Linked DNA regions of Homo sapiens. The protein of the gene in region 1 purifies or fractionates together with the protein of each later gene. This does not show direct contact. Each region holds a gene or a part of one and is shown in the gene's direction. Other genes may lie near its edges.

Region 1 (8,741 bases):
GTCCTCTGTTTCTAATGAGATAAAGGGGATGATGGGATTTAAGTACTTCCTGAGGGGAGTTGAAAGGACCAAATGAGATAATGGATGCAAAAACACTGAACTAGAAAGTAACCAATGCTTCCATTTCCCCCACTGAGGTTAAGAGGAGGGACTCTGGAACCAGGCAGCCTGGACCTTCTACTCCAGGGCTGTCACTTACTGGCTCTGTGTTCCTTTGGCAAGCGGCCAAACATCTCTATGCCTTGGTTTCCTCATCTGCAGCATAGGCATACTGGGTTTGTGAAGATTAAATAAATGGGTTAACCATGAAAAATGCTTGGTATTGGGCCAGGCACGGTGGCTCACACCTGTAATCTCAGCACCTTGGGAGCCCGAGGCCGGCGGATTGCCTGAGCTAAAGAGTTCAAGACCAGCCTGGGCAACATGATGAAACCCTGCCTCTACTAAAATTCAAAAAATTAGCTGCGCATGGTGGTGGGCACCTGTAATTCCAGCTACTCAGGAGGCTGAGGCACAAGAATTGCTTGAACCCAGGAGGCGGAGGTTGCAGTGAGCCGAGATTGCATCACTGCACTCCAGCCTGGGTGACAGAGCAAGACTCTGTCTCAAAAATAAATAAATAAATAAATAAAAATAAACGCTTGGTATCCCAGAACTATATCTGTTCCATTTTGTAAGAAGATTTTCATTTTCAAATAATTTCAGATTTACAGAAGTGTGGCAAGAATAGTATCAAAAAAATCTTATTTTTTGAATATTCTTCACCAGGATTCACTAACTTTTTAACATTTTATTGAGGTAGAATTCCCATACCATTAAGTTCAGCCATTTAAAGTCTATAAGCCAGGCTTGGTGGCTCACACCTGTAATCCCAGCACTTTGGGAGGCTGAGGCAGGTGGATCACTTGAGCTCAGGAGTTGGAGACCAGACTGGGCAACATGGCAAGACCCTGTCTCTATTAAAAAATAAAAAATAAATTAAGTGTACAGTCTAATTTTTTTCAGATTCACAAATTTTGAAACATTTACTTTTATCTTTCTTTCTCTCTTTTTTTTTTTGAGGGGGGACGAAGTCTCGCTCTGTCACCCAGGCTGGAGTGCAGTGGTACAATATTGGCTCACTGCAATCTCTGCCTCCCAGGTTCAAGTGATTCTCCTGCCTCAGCCTCCCAAGTAGCTGGTATTACAGGCGCCCACCACCACACCTGGCTAATTTTTATATTTTTAGTAGAGACAGAGTTTCACCATGTTGGCCAGGCTGGTCTCGAACTCCCGACCTCAAAAGATCCACCTGTCTCAGCCTCCCAAAGTGCTGGGATTATAGGCGTGAGCCACCATGCCTGGCCTATATTGTGTTTCTTAAGAACAACATCATTATCTTACACAACCATGATGCAATTGTAAAATTCAAGAATTATTTCTAAAATATAGTCCATATTTGGTTTTTTTTTTTTTTGAGCTAGGGTCTCACTCTGGCTGCCCAGGCTGGAGTGCAGTGATGCGATCTTGGCTGACTGCAGCCTCTGCCTCCCTAGTTCAAGCAGTTCTGCCTCAGCCTCCTGAGTATCTGGGATTACAGGCGCCTGCCACCATACCCAGTTAATTTTTGTATTTTCAGTAGAGACGGGGTTTTGCCATGTTGGCCTGGCTGGTCTCGAACTCCTGACCTCAGGTGATCCACCACCACCCCTGCCTCCCAAAGTGTAGGGATTACAGGCGTGAGCCACTGTGCCGGTATAGAATGCCCTTCATAGCAACATTTCCCCCAATCCAGGAACCAACCCAGGATCACTTGTTGCCTGTTGTTTTTTAGACAGAGTCTTGTTCTGTCGCCCAGGCTGGAGTGCAGTGGCATGATGTCAGCTCACCTCAACCTCTGCCTCCCAAGTTCAAGTGATTTTCATGCCTCAGCCTCGTGAGTAGCTGGGACTACAGGCATGTGCTACCACGCCAAGCTAATTTTTGTATTATTATTATTTTTTAATAAAGACAGGGTTTCACCATGATGGCCAGGCTGGTCTTGAACTCCTGGCCTCAGGTGATCCACCCGCCTCAGCCTCCCAAAGTACTGGGATTACAGGTGTGAGCCACTGCGCCCGGCCTAGTTTTCTTTCTTTCTTTCTTTCTTTTTTTTTTTTTTGAGACAGAGTCTCACTCTGTCGCTCAGGTTGGAGTGCAGTGGCGATCTCAGCTCACTGCAAGCTCCGCCTCCCAGGTTCACGCCGTTCTCCTGCCTCAGCCTCCCAAGTAGCTGGGTCTACAGGCACCTGCCACCATGCCCGGCTAATTTTTTTAGTAGAGACGGGGTTTCACTATGTTGGCCAGGATGGTCTTGATCTCCTGACCTCGTGATCCACCCACCTTGGCCTCCCAAAGTGCTGGGATTATAGGCATGAGCCACTGCACCCGGCCCTCTTTTTTTTTTTTTTTTTTTTTTTGAGACGGAGTCTTGCTCTGTTGTCCAAGCTGGAGTGCAGTGGCACCATCTCGGCTTACTGCAAGCTCTGCCTCCATTCTTCTGCCCCAGCCTCCTGAGTAGCTGAGACTACAGGCGCCTACCACCACATCCGGCTAATGTTTTGTATTTTTAGTAGAGATGGGGTTTCACCATGTTAGCCAGGATGGTCTCGATCTCCTGACTTCAAGATCTGCCCGCCTTGGCCTCCCAAAGTGCTGGGATTACAGGTGTGACCCACCGCACCCAGCCAGTATAGTTTTCTTTAATCTGGAAGGCTTCCTCAGCCTTTCTTGAATTTTCCAGAGACTGACATTTAGGCAGAGTACAGGACAGCTATTCTGTAGACTGTCTGTCCCTCAGTGTGCGTTTGTGTGATTGTTCCTCATGATTAGTTTCCGGTTTTGCATTATTATAATTATGGTTCTTGTTGTTGAGATGAGAATGATAATAGCAGCTATCTAACAGGATTGTTGTCAGGACTCAATTGATCATGTGAAAAGCACAGAACAATGCTGGTATGTAGCAAGTGCCCCATAAAGGAAGACTGTTGTTGTTGCCGTTGTTAATATAGAGGGTGTGGCTGGGCTCAGTGACTCACGCCTATAATCCCAGCACTTTGAGAGGCTGAGGCAAGTGGATCACTTGAGGCCAGGAGTTTCAGACCAGCCTGGGCAACATAATAAGACCCTGTTTCTACAAAAAAATTAAAAAAAATTAGTGGGGTATGATGGCACGTGCCTGTAGCCCTAGTTACTGAGGAGGCTAGGCTGGGGGCTCGCTTGAGCCCAGGGTAGAGGTGAACTATGTTCACACCACTGCACTTCAGCCTGGGTGACAGAGCGAGAACCAGTCTCTAAAATTTAAAAAAAAAAAAACAAAAAAAAAGGAGAGTGGGCGGGCCTACAAACAATGTTAGAGAAGTTGAGAAGGAGAATCACTGCCCTTCATATAGCCCCTAAGGAAGGCTGGCATAACACCAGGAGAGAGCCTGAGCTTTGCATAGGGTAGACACAGGGCTGCTGAGGTCCTTTCTGCAGAGGTGCCCAGGGCTGAGAGTTATGGAGCATTCAAGGGTCTTGACACTGGCTCTCCATGCTGATCCAACCAGGACCCGCCTCTCTGACTGGGTGCATTGCCTGAGTCCCTCTAGCTCCTCTTCCTTTTCTCTCTCCCCAAACCAGGTACTTCAAAGGCTCATCAAGTCCCGAGGAAAGTCTCAGTCCAAACACCTCAATGTCCAAATAGCGGCCTCGGAAAAGCTGGCACAGTGCCCCCCTGTGAGTGCCTAGATCCCAGGGAAGGGAATGGAGGGAGAACATTTGGGTTGTCCTGGTTTCCTCTGGCCTACATGAGAGACAGGGTGACCAGGAACACCTGGGTCAGGCCTGTGGGTGCAGACTGGTCTTCTGGGAAGAGCGCAGGTCCCGTCAGTCAAAGACTGGGTTCAAGCCCCAGAAGCACCCTTCTGCGTGGAGAGTCAAGCCCTGTCTCCCAGCCTTGGTTGCCTTATCTCTAGAATGAGGGAGTTGGACTGAGTGCCAAAACTTCTTGCAGTTCTGCCAATCTGTAGATCTGAGAGCTCTCCTTCCCTTCTACATCCAGAGGCCTCTTTTTAACCTTGTCCTTCAATCCCTTGACTCTACCCACTGCACCCAGGCCACACCCTCAACCCCCTTGGCCATGCCCCACTCATCCCAGCCCTGCCCCCTAACCCCGCCTTCACAGGAAATGTTTGACATCATCCTGGATGAGAACCAATTGGAGGATGCCTGCGAGCATCTGGCGGAGTACTTGGAAGCCTATTGGAAGGCCACACACCCGCCCAGCAGCACGCCACCCAATCCGCTGCTGAACCGCACCATGGCTACCGCAGCCCTGGCTGCCAGCCCTGCCCCTGTCTCCAACCTCCAGGTACAGGTGCTCACCTCGCTCAGGAGAAACCTCGGCTTCTGGGGCGGGCTGGAGTCCTCACAGCGGGGCAGTGTGGTGCCCCAGGAGCAGGAACATGCCATGTAGTGGGCGCCCTGCCCGTCTTCCCTCCTGCTCTGGGGTCGGAACTGGAGTGCAGGGAACATGGAGGAGGAAGGGAAGAGCTTTATTTTGTAAAAAAATAAGATGAGCGGCAGCTTCTGGTGTCTGTGGTTTTTGATGGGTCTGGGGCTTCTGGTGCTGTCTTCCTGGGCCTGGTGCCATAGGAGCGCATCTGCTGCCCGCTGGATATGAGGCCTGATGGGAGCGCTTTTAAGACAAGGGACTAGGAAGGACATGCGAGGAAGACTGATAAACTGATTCGCTGGACTCCACACCCTTTTTAGACCCAACAGAGCAGGGGCCTTCAGAGCCAGGGAAACCTACGTTAAACCTGGACTCTCCCTCCCTGGAGCCCTGACTCCACAAGGCCCCTCAAGAGGGACCAAGAATGTGGCATCTTCTATGACTTGATGCTGAACCTTCCACCATTCTCCCAGTTAAAGTCCAGGAAAGGACCTCCCATGGGAGACCCATCCTGCCTTGCCCTCCTCCCATGGGAGCCACAGCCCACCTCTTGATGGCACACCATTAAGTATAAGGTCTTAAGAGCCAGAAGAAACCCATGAAATCATTCTAGACTGTAGCTTTCAAATTTGTTTTCAGCAACAGAGCCCATTTGTTCAATGAATCTTACGTGGAAGCTGAGGATGTTAGATAATGCATCCTTGCTCTGCCCTGAGGGAGCCAGGGGAATGGCCTCCCCTCCACCTCCATGGGGACCCCTGAAGCACTTCTGTGCCCTTCCCACCCAATGCCACCCCAGATCTCTAGGTAACAGTTTGGAAACTGCTACTCAGGTCTAACCCCCATCACATTACAACCAAGAAATGAGGCCACAGAGAGGGGAACTGTTTGCTTAGGGTCACACAGCTTGACATGGCAGGGGAGGGACTGGAACCCCTCTTGTGCCCCACCTCCACGTGACATTTGATGATAAGGACACTGGGCCACCTCTTCATCTTCAGTAGGAGGGGGAGACCCAGCAGCCTTCCCCAGCTTGCTGCTTTGAGTGCTTGTTGGGGGCAAGGGAGGAATCCCATCAGCCTTGGAGATGGTGTCATCCGACTAGGGAATGGTGGGAGAAGCATGGGGTTCTGGAAGCCTGAGATTGGGGTTTGGTGTGGGTCGAAGAAGCCAGGGTCAGCAGGTTTGAGCTGAAATCCCGTTAATATATTTGGAAAACCAAAGGCAATGACTAACCGAATCAACCGCTAATGAGTGGCAATACTGAGCTGTTAATGACAGTTAGCCCCAAGATAGCATTAATGACCTGCACTGAGGAAGCGGTGACTCATGGCTCACGGCTGTTGGCCATAGTTGCCCTGAGAGTTCATATGTCCTCACATCTGTTGAAGGTCGGGTGCCCCCTGTCCCGAGAGAGGAGCAAATGCCCTGAGGTCTGTCCTCTGGCTGGGCTCCAGAGCCGTTTGTCCCCGGGGCCCCTCCTCTAGAGCCAGCACCCTCTTCATCCAGGCCGGACCTCTTAATGCTGTCACTAACTTGCCTTGCTTTGTTGTGTTTTTCTCACCCCTGCCTGATCTGCATGGTGTGTGCTGTCCGTCTGCTAACCAGGGACCCTACCTTGCTTCCGGGGACCAGCCACTGGAACGGGCCACCGGGGAGCACGCCAGCATGCACGAGTACCCAGGGGAGCTGGGCCAGCCCCCAGGCCTTTACCCCAGCAGCCACCCACCAGGCCGGGCAGGCACGCTACGGGCACTGTCCCGCCAAGACACTTTTGATGCCGACACCCCCGGCAGCCGAAACTCTGCCTACACGGAGCTGGGAGACTCATGTGTGGACATGGAGACTGACCCCTCAGAGGGGCCAGGGCTTGGAGACCCTGCAGGGGGCGGCACGCCCCCAGCCCGACAGGGATCCTGGGAGGACGAGGAAGAAGACTATGAGGAAGAGCTGACCGACAACCGGAACCGGGGCCGGAATAAGGCCCGCTACTGCGCTGAGGGTGGGGGTCCAGTTTTGGGGCGCAACAAGAATGAGCTGGAGGGCTGGGGACGAGGCGTCTACATTCGCTGAGAGGCAGGGGCCACACGGCGGGAGGAAGGGCTCTGAGCCCAGGGGAGGGGAGGGAGCGAGGGGCTCACACCTGACATGTATTCGCCTCCAGGGGGCGCTGTCTCCCTCCTTTCAGATGCCTTTGCTCAAAGCTTGGGGTTTCTTTGGTGTTACCATCCCAGCTCCCGGGAGGCCCTTAAGCCCCAGCTGTCGGTTTTTACCTGCCTGTTGTGGATGGATGGGGGATACCCACCTTTCTGAAGTGTCCCCTTTCTCCCATCTTAAGGGGCTCTCCTCCCTCACCCTCCTAGAGAAAAGGTGCACTTCCTTAACTCTTTCTACTCGGGGCCCTAAGTGACGGTCCTAAGTGGGATGGCTCTCCTTCTCCCAAGCTGCAGTACTGGGGAAGGGCTGGGCGCTTTTCCTGGAAAGGGAGGCCACAGATTCTTTCCCATGGGGGCTCTCTTCCCCAGACCCCAGATCCAAGGTCCCTCACCCTGCCTGCCCCTTCCTCCCAGCTTCCTGGCAGCATCGTCTGGTCGGTGAAAGCCATAGCATGGACACCCCATGGGGAGCTTGTCTTGGGGAGGGTTCTGGGTGGAAGCTGGCAGGCATACAGCACCCTCTACCCTCCGTGGCCATGGCAACGTCCAGGGCCCAGAACCCTGAGGAGTGAGCGGCCGAGACGCTGCTCCCCACCCCCCACCTCCATGCCTCAGCCTTTGCCTACCCCAGGAATGAGCTTGGCCTCCAACATCCCTTGCCTGCTGCCATTAGTAGAGGGGGCCCCTCTGCATCTGAGCCCCCCATCCCTGTGCCACCTGGGTGTGGAGCCCATGGAACACTCTGGTCCGCCTCATTTTAAACCAAAAAACTGCTCCTTCACCCTCACCCTGAGGCCCCAGGGGAGAGGACCCGTGGGATGGTGCCCAGGGGTTGCCTTGGGACCTCGGATCTCCTCTGGGGGGCTTGGCTGCTGCTGTTGCTGCTCTGTATTTGCCTCTCGTGATTCTGTTTGTTACCCATGTTCACTTCCCCCAGGAGAGGCCTTGGTACCCCCTCTCCCCTGGGGCATCCCTTTGCCTTGGCATCCCTGTAGCCCAGCAACCCTGCCCCTCCCCAGCATCCCAGCTGGGCCAGAGAGAGCCGAGTGTGCCAACAAGGACTGGGGCCTGCCCGGCTGCCCGCCTCAGGGATGGGCACCTCATGCCTGTCTCGCCACCTCCTGTGCCAATGTCCCACCCTCCACCTGGGGGTGGGGTGCAGCTTCCACTTACTGATTAGAAGACACCACTGCCCTCCCTTCCCCCCTCCCTGTCTGGTGTCCTGTGCCCCCATCTGTCTGTCTATATTTGTCTGTACTCCCCTAGGAGAAGTATTTTGCCATATATAAAACCACTGTCCTGTCCTTTGTGGCTGCCTCCCAAGCCTGCTTCTTTGTCCTCGCCACATAGTCGTCAGCGTAGGCACCTGGGAGCTGCTGATATGCACGGGGAGTTGAAAGGGTGGGTGCCTGAAGATGTTGTGCCCTGAGTCATTGACTCAAAAGAAAAGATGATCCTTTGATTTTGGCCCTCTGATGTATTGTGCCCAAGCCAGGAGCTGCTTGGGCAGTCCCAGCTCCACACTGGCCCTGAGCCCCTTCACTTACCTGTCTCTCCACAAGTAGAGCCAAAGGCAATGGGAAGCTCAATGTTGCTCAGTGGGTGAGATCCAGACCCACTGGTGCAATGTCTTAAATACACATGACTGTTTTTCTGCTCTTGTGGCATCACTGTGCCCCAACACCTCAGGAGAGGGAGGGGCTGAGCTTCTGGCTCCACTAATGCCCCCCTCGTTCCTGCTAACCAGCTTTGGGGACAGGGAGGCAGACTACTTGTGGGGGCAGGTCAGAGAAAATCAGGGATTCTGCCAGTCCCAGACTGAAAGTCAGCAGGTGAGTGTACCCATTCCTCCCATCCCCAGCTGGCAGGATGTGGACTTCTGACAGTTACTGCAACCACCTGTGTCCTGCCTCACACAGTACCCTCAAACTATTTCCCCTCCCTCCTGGTTCTTTTTCTTTTTTTTTTTTTGAGATGGAGTTTTGCTCTTGTCGCCCAGGCTGAAGAGTGCAGTGGCGCGATCTCGGTTCACTGCAACCTCCGCCTCCCAGGTTCAAGTGATTCTCCTGCCTCAGCCTCCCGAGTAGCTGGGACTACAGGCACCTGCCACCACGCCTGGCCAATTTTTGTAT
Region 2 (8,048 bases), on another chromosome or scaffold:
GCTGATGTACATAAAGTACAGTGATGGCATAGAAGAGGGAGTTACATAGTCAGTTTTACCTTCAGTAGTGGTTCTTGCAGCAATGGCAAGAGTTTGCCTCACCAGTAATACTGGGGGATGGAATGCCAGGCAAACAAGCTTGAAATCTGGGGGCCTTGAAAACTGGGGGGATTGAGCCTTCTATGTAAAGTCAGTGTAATTGCAGCATAGGGTATAAGAGATGGCAGGAAAAGACTCTGGAAGAATAGAGACCAGGGGTTAGAAGACCAGTGCAGGCATCCAAGCAAGAAATCACTTTTGCCCAAACTAAGGTAATATTGAACATGGAGAAAAGAGACAGGGTTTTAGAGTGATTTCACAGTCAGTGTCAATGGGGAGATAGAGTTCAGTTCGGGGTTATTAACTCTAAGGTACCTGTAAAACAACCAGGTGGATATAGCTAGTAGTAGGTAGAAATTCAGGACTGAAGTTTGGAGAACTTGGTCAAGATTTAGAGATTTTTTTTTTGTCATCTATATATAAGCTAATAATTAAAACCATTTATCTAACAAATGACAGGATTTTAATGAACTCAGCAAAGATTTGAATATTATCTACAAGGTACCACAAGGGATTGGCTGCCTTATACAAAGAGGAATAATTTTGTATTTTACCTCAAGGTGCTTATCAAGAAAGCCAAAATCATAAAAAGACAGACTTGTGGAATTTTGGCGGCTTCCTCTTGAAACTAGAACAAAAACTCTGTTCTAGGTACTTGAGTAGGTTGTTCTGAGGGGCATGTGGGTATACATGTAAGTTCCTGGTGTTCCCATATTAGATATTACTGACTCTCAGTCCAGTTCTGTTTGCATCCCATTCTGCGGCATCCCACAGTTATATGGTGCTGTGAATTATTGCACTGGGGTTGTTAGGGTAGAGAAAACTGAAACAATGAGTCATCCTTGCCTTTCACTTTCCTAAATTGCCCACAAGCTAATGTCCCAAACTCAGTATTTTTCCCTTACAGATCATTCTGAGTATTGCTGCTGTAACAATTTTCCTAAGTTGTTACTGTTATAACATTATTACTCTAACTCTTATTTCTAGTCTTGCTCTGAACTTTTTAACAGTTTTTTGTTGCCTCCTTAACTATAGCTCCTCTATATGGCTTTCAATCCCTTCTCTGATATAGCTCAACTCTTCCTACCCAACTGTTTCCTGATACTACCCATTATAGACACTTTGCTTGTCAGATAAGTACATTATCTGTGTCTTGTATATAATCATACCATTTCCTTGCTCTTGCTTATGTTGCTATTTTTTCTTCCCACCCCTTAAATCATACATCCTTCAGAGTCTAGTTTAAATCTTGGTTCCGACTTGAAACATCCCTAATTTCTTACTTCTTCACTTTCTCAACAAAGATGAATCCTATGTGACAGGTGTTGTGGTGGGTGCATTACACACCTTCCAGTCTACAAGGTTAAGGTATTATCCCTATTGAGTGAGTGCTTGCTGTGTATGCTAAGCTTGTATTTGCATGCAATGTTTCACTTAAACTCTATGAGAACGTGTTATTTACATTTTACAGTGGCTAACTGTAAGTGGAGATGTGAAGTTTAAAGAGGTTAAGTAAATTCTCCAACATCATTCAGCTAATACATAATAAAGCTGACATTCGAATCCATTTGTGTTTGACTTATTATTGTTTCTAATAAGTGAAAACACAGTGTCTCACCTCAAAGACTCACAGTCTGGTAGAGGAGAAACATAGTACACAGACAGTCTTAATGCCTTGTGGTAAGTTCTGTGATGGAGCTAAGCCCACCGTCGTGTAGAAGCACATTAGGACGGGTGCTGATCTAGAATGAGAAGATGAGGAAGGGCTTCCGGGAGAAAATTCTGAGCTGAATCTTAAAGCAGTAGTCAAGAGTTCTGAGAAATGGGAAAGACTGAAAAACTGTCACTGATTGGAAGGTTCTGAGAAGATATGACAACTAAGGTGGTATGCTGGACTGGGGTCTAGGAACATAAAAAAGACATTAATGGAAAAAGTGAAGAGCTCCAAATAAATTATGTAGTCAATAGTCATGTACCAGTGTTAATATCTTAGTTTTGACTAACATGCTGTGCTTATGTAAAGTGCTAACATTTGTGGAAGCTAGGTGAAGCGTATGCAGGAACTCTGTAATTCTTCTGTAAATCTAAAATTATTTCAAAATTAAAAGTTAAAAAATAAGCTTACTCTTAGGAAATAAAAAAGAAGTAATTAGAAAACGTGTTCTATGTAGATAGCAGAGAGTGCAAAACCATGGAGAGAAAGTTGACTTTGAAGGGTTGCGTTTAAGTAATTGAAGCCATTGTTCTATGCTGAGAAACAAGAAGAGAGGATATTCCTTTTTTCTGAGGAAGCTTATCAGAATCAATTAGGGAAAGTTTTCTTGGCCAACAGTAGCCCCCTACCCACCACTGTCTCAAGGAAGCCATATCTAAAGGACCTCTTCATATTGATAGGGTGTGTCTGGGGGATGGGGGAAATTGTTGGAGTTATGAACTATTTTAATAGAGCACAGTGTTAAGTGAAAAAGTAGTTCAAGTTAGACTGGGATCAGACTACCAAAGCCTTAAGAATTTAGATCATTTCCTAAAGTCAGAGGGAAAACAGTGAAGGATTTTAGCTTTATCTGAGCAAGTAATATGGTCAAATTTGCAAAATTAGTCTGGTGTGACTGTGAAAGCTGCATTGAAGGACTGTACCTGGAGACTGTAGGAAGCCCTGAAGAGTGGCCCAGGCTGGAGATGTTAAGCTTCTGAACTGAAGTACTCATGGGAATGGAGAAGAGGCTCCAGCCAAAGGGCAGGTTATATATCGCAAATGCTTTGTTGCTCATACATTCTTGATCTTATACCATTTCATACAACCATGCCTCCTGGCTGACAGCACTTACAAGAGACCATTGATTATAAGATGCATTCTAATTTCAAAGAGATGAACAAGTGAAAATCAAGTGTCTTGAACTAATAAAATAGGATAGTAGTGGTCCCAGTTTGCAACAAATTTAGTGTGTTGTAATACAGTAGCTCTCCCTTGTCCACAGAGGATATGTTCCAGGACCCTCAGTGGATGCCTAGAACCACAGGTAATACCAGACACTCTATATAGTAAATGTTTTCCTATACATACATACCTATGATAAAGTTTAAGTTATAAATCAGGCACAGAGATTAACATCAATAACTAATAAAATAGAACAATTATAACAATATGTCAGCATCACTACCCTTATACTTTGGGGCCATTATTAAGTAAAATAAGGGTTACTTGAACATAAGTACTTCAGTACAGCAATAGTGGATAGGATAAACTAGACAGTTTCTACGTGACTAACGGGCAGGTGTGTCTACAGCAGAGAATGCTGGAAAAAGGAATGATTCATGTCTCAGGTGAGACAAGGGAATTCACTACTGAGAATGGCATACAATTTTAAACTTATGAATTGTTTCTGGAATTTTCCATTTAATATTTTCAGATTGATCTTGACTGTAGGTAATTAAAACCAGGGAAAGTGAAACCATAAATAAGAGAGTACTGCTATGAATATAATAGACACAGAGCAAATACTTTTTACTTGGAAGATACAAGAAGATTTATATTTCTGCGCCTTGTTCTGTGATAATATCGTGAAAGTAGTCAAACAGTGCCCCAAGTAGCTTAACCACTTTTAGTAATTTAGTAGCTGCTGCTACATGGAAGAAATCCACAAATCCAGAAAGACAAAGCAAAGCTAGCATTTCAGCAACAAGAAACAAAAATGGAATAAAGTCTTTGTATTTTTCTGTACAAAAGGCCCAGACCTCACCAACTGGAGCAGAACCTTTGACTTACCATTTGTAAGCTGGTGTTGCCAGTGAACCATGGAGATGTTGGGGACATGGAAAAACACTGCTGTTGGCAGTACTATTGAAGAGTAATAGTTGATAGTGACTAGTACAGTGTCTGCATCCATTTAATGAGCAGGCAACTTGGTTAAGCTGGCTGTTTTTGCAGGATAATTCCATTTATAGCCTCTGTCTACAAACAGTCAAGAGATATGATATTGGCATCATTAATCTTTTCTGAGTTAATAATCTCTTCTGAGTTAATGAACTGATTGGTCATAGATGTCCCCATAGACAAAAGGCACACAAATTTGAGTATACAATTCTTAAACTATACCAAAAGAAATGTCTGTTGCATTTTTATCATGGACAATAAAAAGATCCTACTACCTATTGAGTATGTGATATGGTTTGGCTGTGTCCCCACCCAAATCTCATTTTGAATTGTAGCTCCCATAATTTCCACATGTGGGAGGGACCCAATTGGAGATAACTGAATCATGGGGGCAGTTTCCCCTATACTGTTCTTGTGGTAGTGAATAAGTCTCACGAGAGCTGATGGATTTATAAAGGGGAGCTCTCCTGCACAAGTTGTTTTTGCCTGCCACCATGTAAGACATGCCTTTTGCCTTCCACCATGATTGTGAAGCCTCCCCAGCCACGTGGAACTGTGAGTCCATTAAATTTCTTTCCTTTATAAATTTGAAGAGGGAGATGGTAAGGTTTTGAATGAGATATGTAAAGCACCTAGGTGCTAGGCTCCCACCTGTAATCTCAGCATTTTGGGAGGCCCAGGCAGGCGTATCACTTGAGGCCAGGAGTTCAAGACCACTGAAACAATGATGAAAAATGTCTTTTTCAGCAGTGTGAAAACAGGCTAATACAGTATGTAAAACTTACTTTTCTTTCTTTTTTTTCCAGGTATATCTTCTGTGTCTCTGGAGACTTTGTTAAAGTTTACAGCACAGTTACAGAAGAGTGTGTACACATACTGCATGGACACAGAAATCTGGTGACTGGAATCCAGCTTAACCCCAACAACCATCTACAGGTGTCAAACAGTTTATAGCTGAATACTTTAAGACTGGCTTTGTTCTTGACAGAAAAATTTGAGTTGAATTTGACTGAGAAACTTTCCAGGTTATAAGTAAAATATTTGCTTATTTTCAGTTGTAGGGTATTTTCCACTTGCTAAATTACATTGCCTATAGCATATTCTGTGAACCATTTGTTCCACAGAATGCTAAGAGGTATTACCTGAGAAGGATATTCTTGGCTGTATGAGTTTCTGAAATTCAGGGCTAGGCACAGTTAAATGTATTTGTTGATTGTAATCTTTTTAGGTTCCCTTACATGCATTGCGAATATCCAAAAGAGGTATGTAGTTTTTGGTGTTTCTCAAACTTACTTGACTTGTGAACCATTTGGTGTCTGGAACACATTTTGAAAAATGTTGGCCAGGAGGTATTGATTTGGTAGATATGTTCCTTTAGAAGTAAGGCTCTGGCTTACTCTAGATATTGCCTAGTCTTAAGACCAGTGTCTAGATAAGAAAATTTGTTTGGTGAGTGGGTCAACTAGTTAGTTTCAAGACAAATTTGGGAATTTAATTTAGTCCAGATTTTCCCACGTCCCCCACAAAGCAGCCCTTCTTTCTTAGTATTTAAGAATAATGAAATGGTCATGTTAATTCTGTTCTTAAGTTTCGGCAAATCTACTAAAATTTTATCTCAACAATATTTTGTTCTTGCTCTTATTTTTAATCCAATTCCATTTTCCTGGATTAGTCACAGCCAACTTGGAAGTTATTGATTAAGGATGGATTTGCATTGCCATTCACTTTTATTCCAAAGGAAATAAAGTAGCACCGATCTTTTCTTTCCAAAATTAAATGAGCTACTTCTAAAAATCAAAGTTAAGTAACTTTTCTACGGGATCCAAGTACATATTTTATGCTTGCCGTCCTCTGAGGGTTTGACAAAAGTTTATCGCTGTGTGTAGTGTTTGAATGTTTTTAATAGCAAAACTATTATTTTGTTAAAATTGAAATTTGTGAAGTCCATATACTAAGTTTTATAGCCAAAAAAACGTATACACAATTCATAAAAGCTTTGTTTCGGATGACTGAAAGTGAGTAAAATTAGAGAAGGGCAGTTTTATCAGATTTGGTTGAGGTGCAGGGGCAGCAGTTCTGGACTTAGGAGTCACAGTGTTTGTGTATTAACCATTGTTTTGACAGTAATTATATGTTTGACTTGTTACATTTTACTAGTCCATATTTATGATTCTCATATGCAGTAATTGTGATATAAATTTCCTAGTTTGTATAATTTTTTGACTTGGATAGATAATATGGTTTTACTCCAACATTTTTACATTCCTCTTCTCTGAGTCCATGTCTCTATTTGCAGAAATCCTAAAATTGCCACTTTCTTTAAAAATATTAAAATTCTTTGTAAACATTATAAGCAAAGTATTTTCCTATAACAACGACAACAAAATCTAGCAGAAACTTAGTATTAATAAAACTAAGTACACTGGGACAAAAGTAAGCCTATGTGTTAGTAAGGTCTTCTGGTGCTACCAAAGTATGGTCCACAGACCAGTGTCCTAAACCATTAGTTACCATTCTGTATAAGAGTACAGAATGTGAGTGTCACAAAACACTTTGACATTGCCTCAGCATCCAAGCATATTATAATTTCTATTGTATTTTATGAAAGTATTGGTCCTTGATGGATTGGAAGAAATTTTTTTAAGCAGAATATTCTTCAGTCACTTGAGAAGCACTCCCTTAATGCTCATATAAGGTAAAAGGAGTTTGGCTAATAAAACTGAGTAAGCTGAGTTCTGGCAGGAAGAGCAACAAGCTCTTGTGTGGGTGTTTTTGTTTTGTTTTGTTTGGTTTTGGTTTTTTTTTCTGGAGAGTCTCACTCTGTCTCCCAGGCTGGAGTACAGCGATGTGATTGATCTCAGCTCACTGCAACCTCAGCCTCCCAAGTAGCTAGGATTACAGGGATGTGCCACCACGCCTGGCTAATTTTTGTAGGGGTTTCGTCATGTTGGCCAGGCTGGTCTCGAACTCCTGGCCTCAAGTGATGCACCCACCTGGGCCTCCCAAAGTGCTGAGATTACAGGTGGCAGCCACTGCACCTTGGTGCTTTTCATATCTCATTCAAAACCTTACCATCTCCCTCTTCAAGACAGAAAGTTGGCTTTTTTCCTCTCTCTTTTAGTTAAAACTTGAAATGGATGGATCTGCTTCTTGCAGAAAGCTGTGAAAAGATTGTTTTGCAGAAGCAATATAAATAAATGACTCTACCTCTTTAAGGTTAACAGTGAATTAATGAATAGAAAATGCCCCTGATCAACATTTAATTATTCATTTGATATCTTGATGAATTTCTTTTTTTTAAATCAATTTTGTATTGTTTTACCCTTTTAGCTGTATTCTTGTTCCCTTGATGGCACAATTAAACTGTGGGACTATATAGATGGCATCTTAATAAAGGTATGTGGATTGATCTTTACTTTTCGTTATGTGAATAAAAAAAGGCAATGTAATTTAATGGTAGATGTACTGTTTCTATAAGGCCAAATATTTAAATAGACTTCCTAAACAAGTTACAAAATAACATCAAAAAAATTAATTTGACTATATAAAAATTTTCCACTTATAAAAGACAAGGTAAAGCTGGAAGAAGATATTTACAAAAGATATTATTCCAAATATACAAAAATCTTCCCAAAAACCAATAAGGAAAAACTAATAGCCTGGTAGAAGAAATTGGCATAAAGTAGGAATATGTAAATTCACAGAAAAGAAATACAAATAGTCAATAAATATGAAGAGATGCTTAAACTCATTAATAAAGAAATCTAAATTAAAACAAATGACACAATATTTCCCCTCATAAATTTAGCCAAATTGTAGATTGAAAAAAAATCTAGTGATAGGTAAAGTATGGAGAAACAGGCACTTTTTTACCCAATGAGAGTTAAAACTGAAAATCAATAAACACGTTTTGCTACAGCAGTCTCACCTCGGAATAATGGCCTGTACACAAAGTCCTTATAGCATTGTTTATGGTAGGAAAAAAGTTAAATATGACCTTGATGTCAGTTAAAATTATGATACATTCAGTACAATACCATTTCAGATCTATATGTAGGAAACTCGAAAGAGTATT

The links. Proteins that work in one complex are often made in the same cells at the same time.
Region 2: the proteins of CACNB1 (region 1) and WDR75 purify together in Homo sapiens (affinity purification with mass spectrometry; 2 studies listed by BioGRID and IntAct, with this or other methods). This does not show direct contact.

The regions. Positions count from the first base shown.
Region 1 is NC_000017.11:39,172,978-39,181,718, reverse strand, and holds the end of CACNB1 (voltage-dependent L-type calcium channel subunit beta-1), read left to right. Parts: intron 1-3,639; coding exon 3,640-3,735; intron 3,736-4,183; coding exon 4,184-4,369; coding exon of another isoform or gene 4,370-4,474; exon of another isoform or gene 4,475-4,712; intron 4,713-5,759; exon of another isoform or gene 5,760-5,856; intron 5,857-6,061; coding exon 6,062-6,526; 3' UTR 6,527-8,266; downstream 8,267-8,741. UniProt on the Homo sapiens protein: Regulatory subunit of L-type calcium channels. Regulates the activity of L-type calcium channels that contain CACNA1A as pore-forming subunit.
Region 2 is NC_000002.12:189,443,600-189,451,647, forward strand, and holds part of WDR75 (WD repeat-containing protein 75), read left to right. Parts: intron 1-4,779; coding exon 4,780-4,909; intron 4,910-5,201; exon of another isoform or gene 5,202-5,211; coding exon of another isoform or gene 5,212-5,235; intron 5,236-7,303; coding exon 7,304-7,369; intron 7,370-8,048. UniProt on the Homo sapiens protein: Ribosome biogenesis factor. Part of the small subunit (SSU) processome, first precursor of the small eukaryotic ribosomal subunit.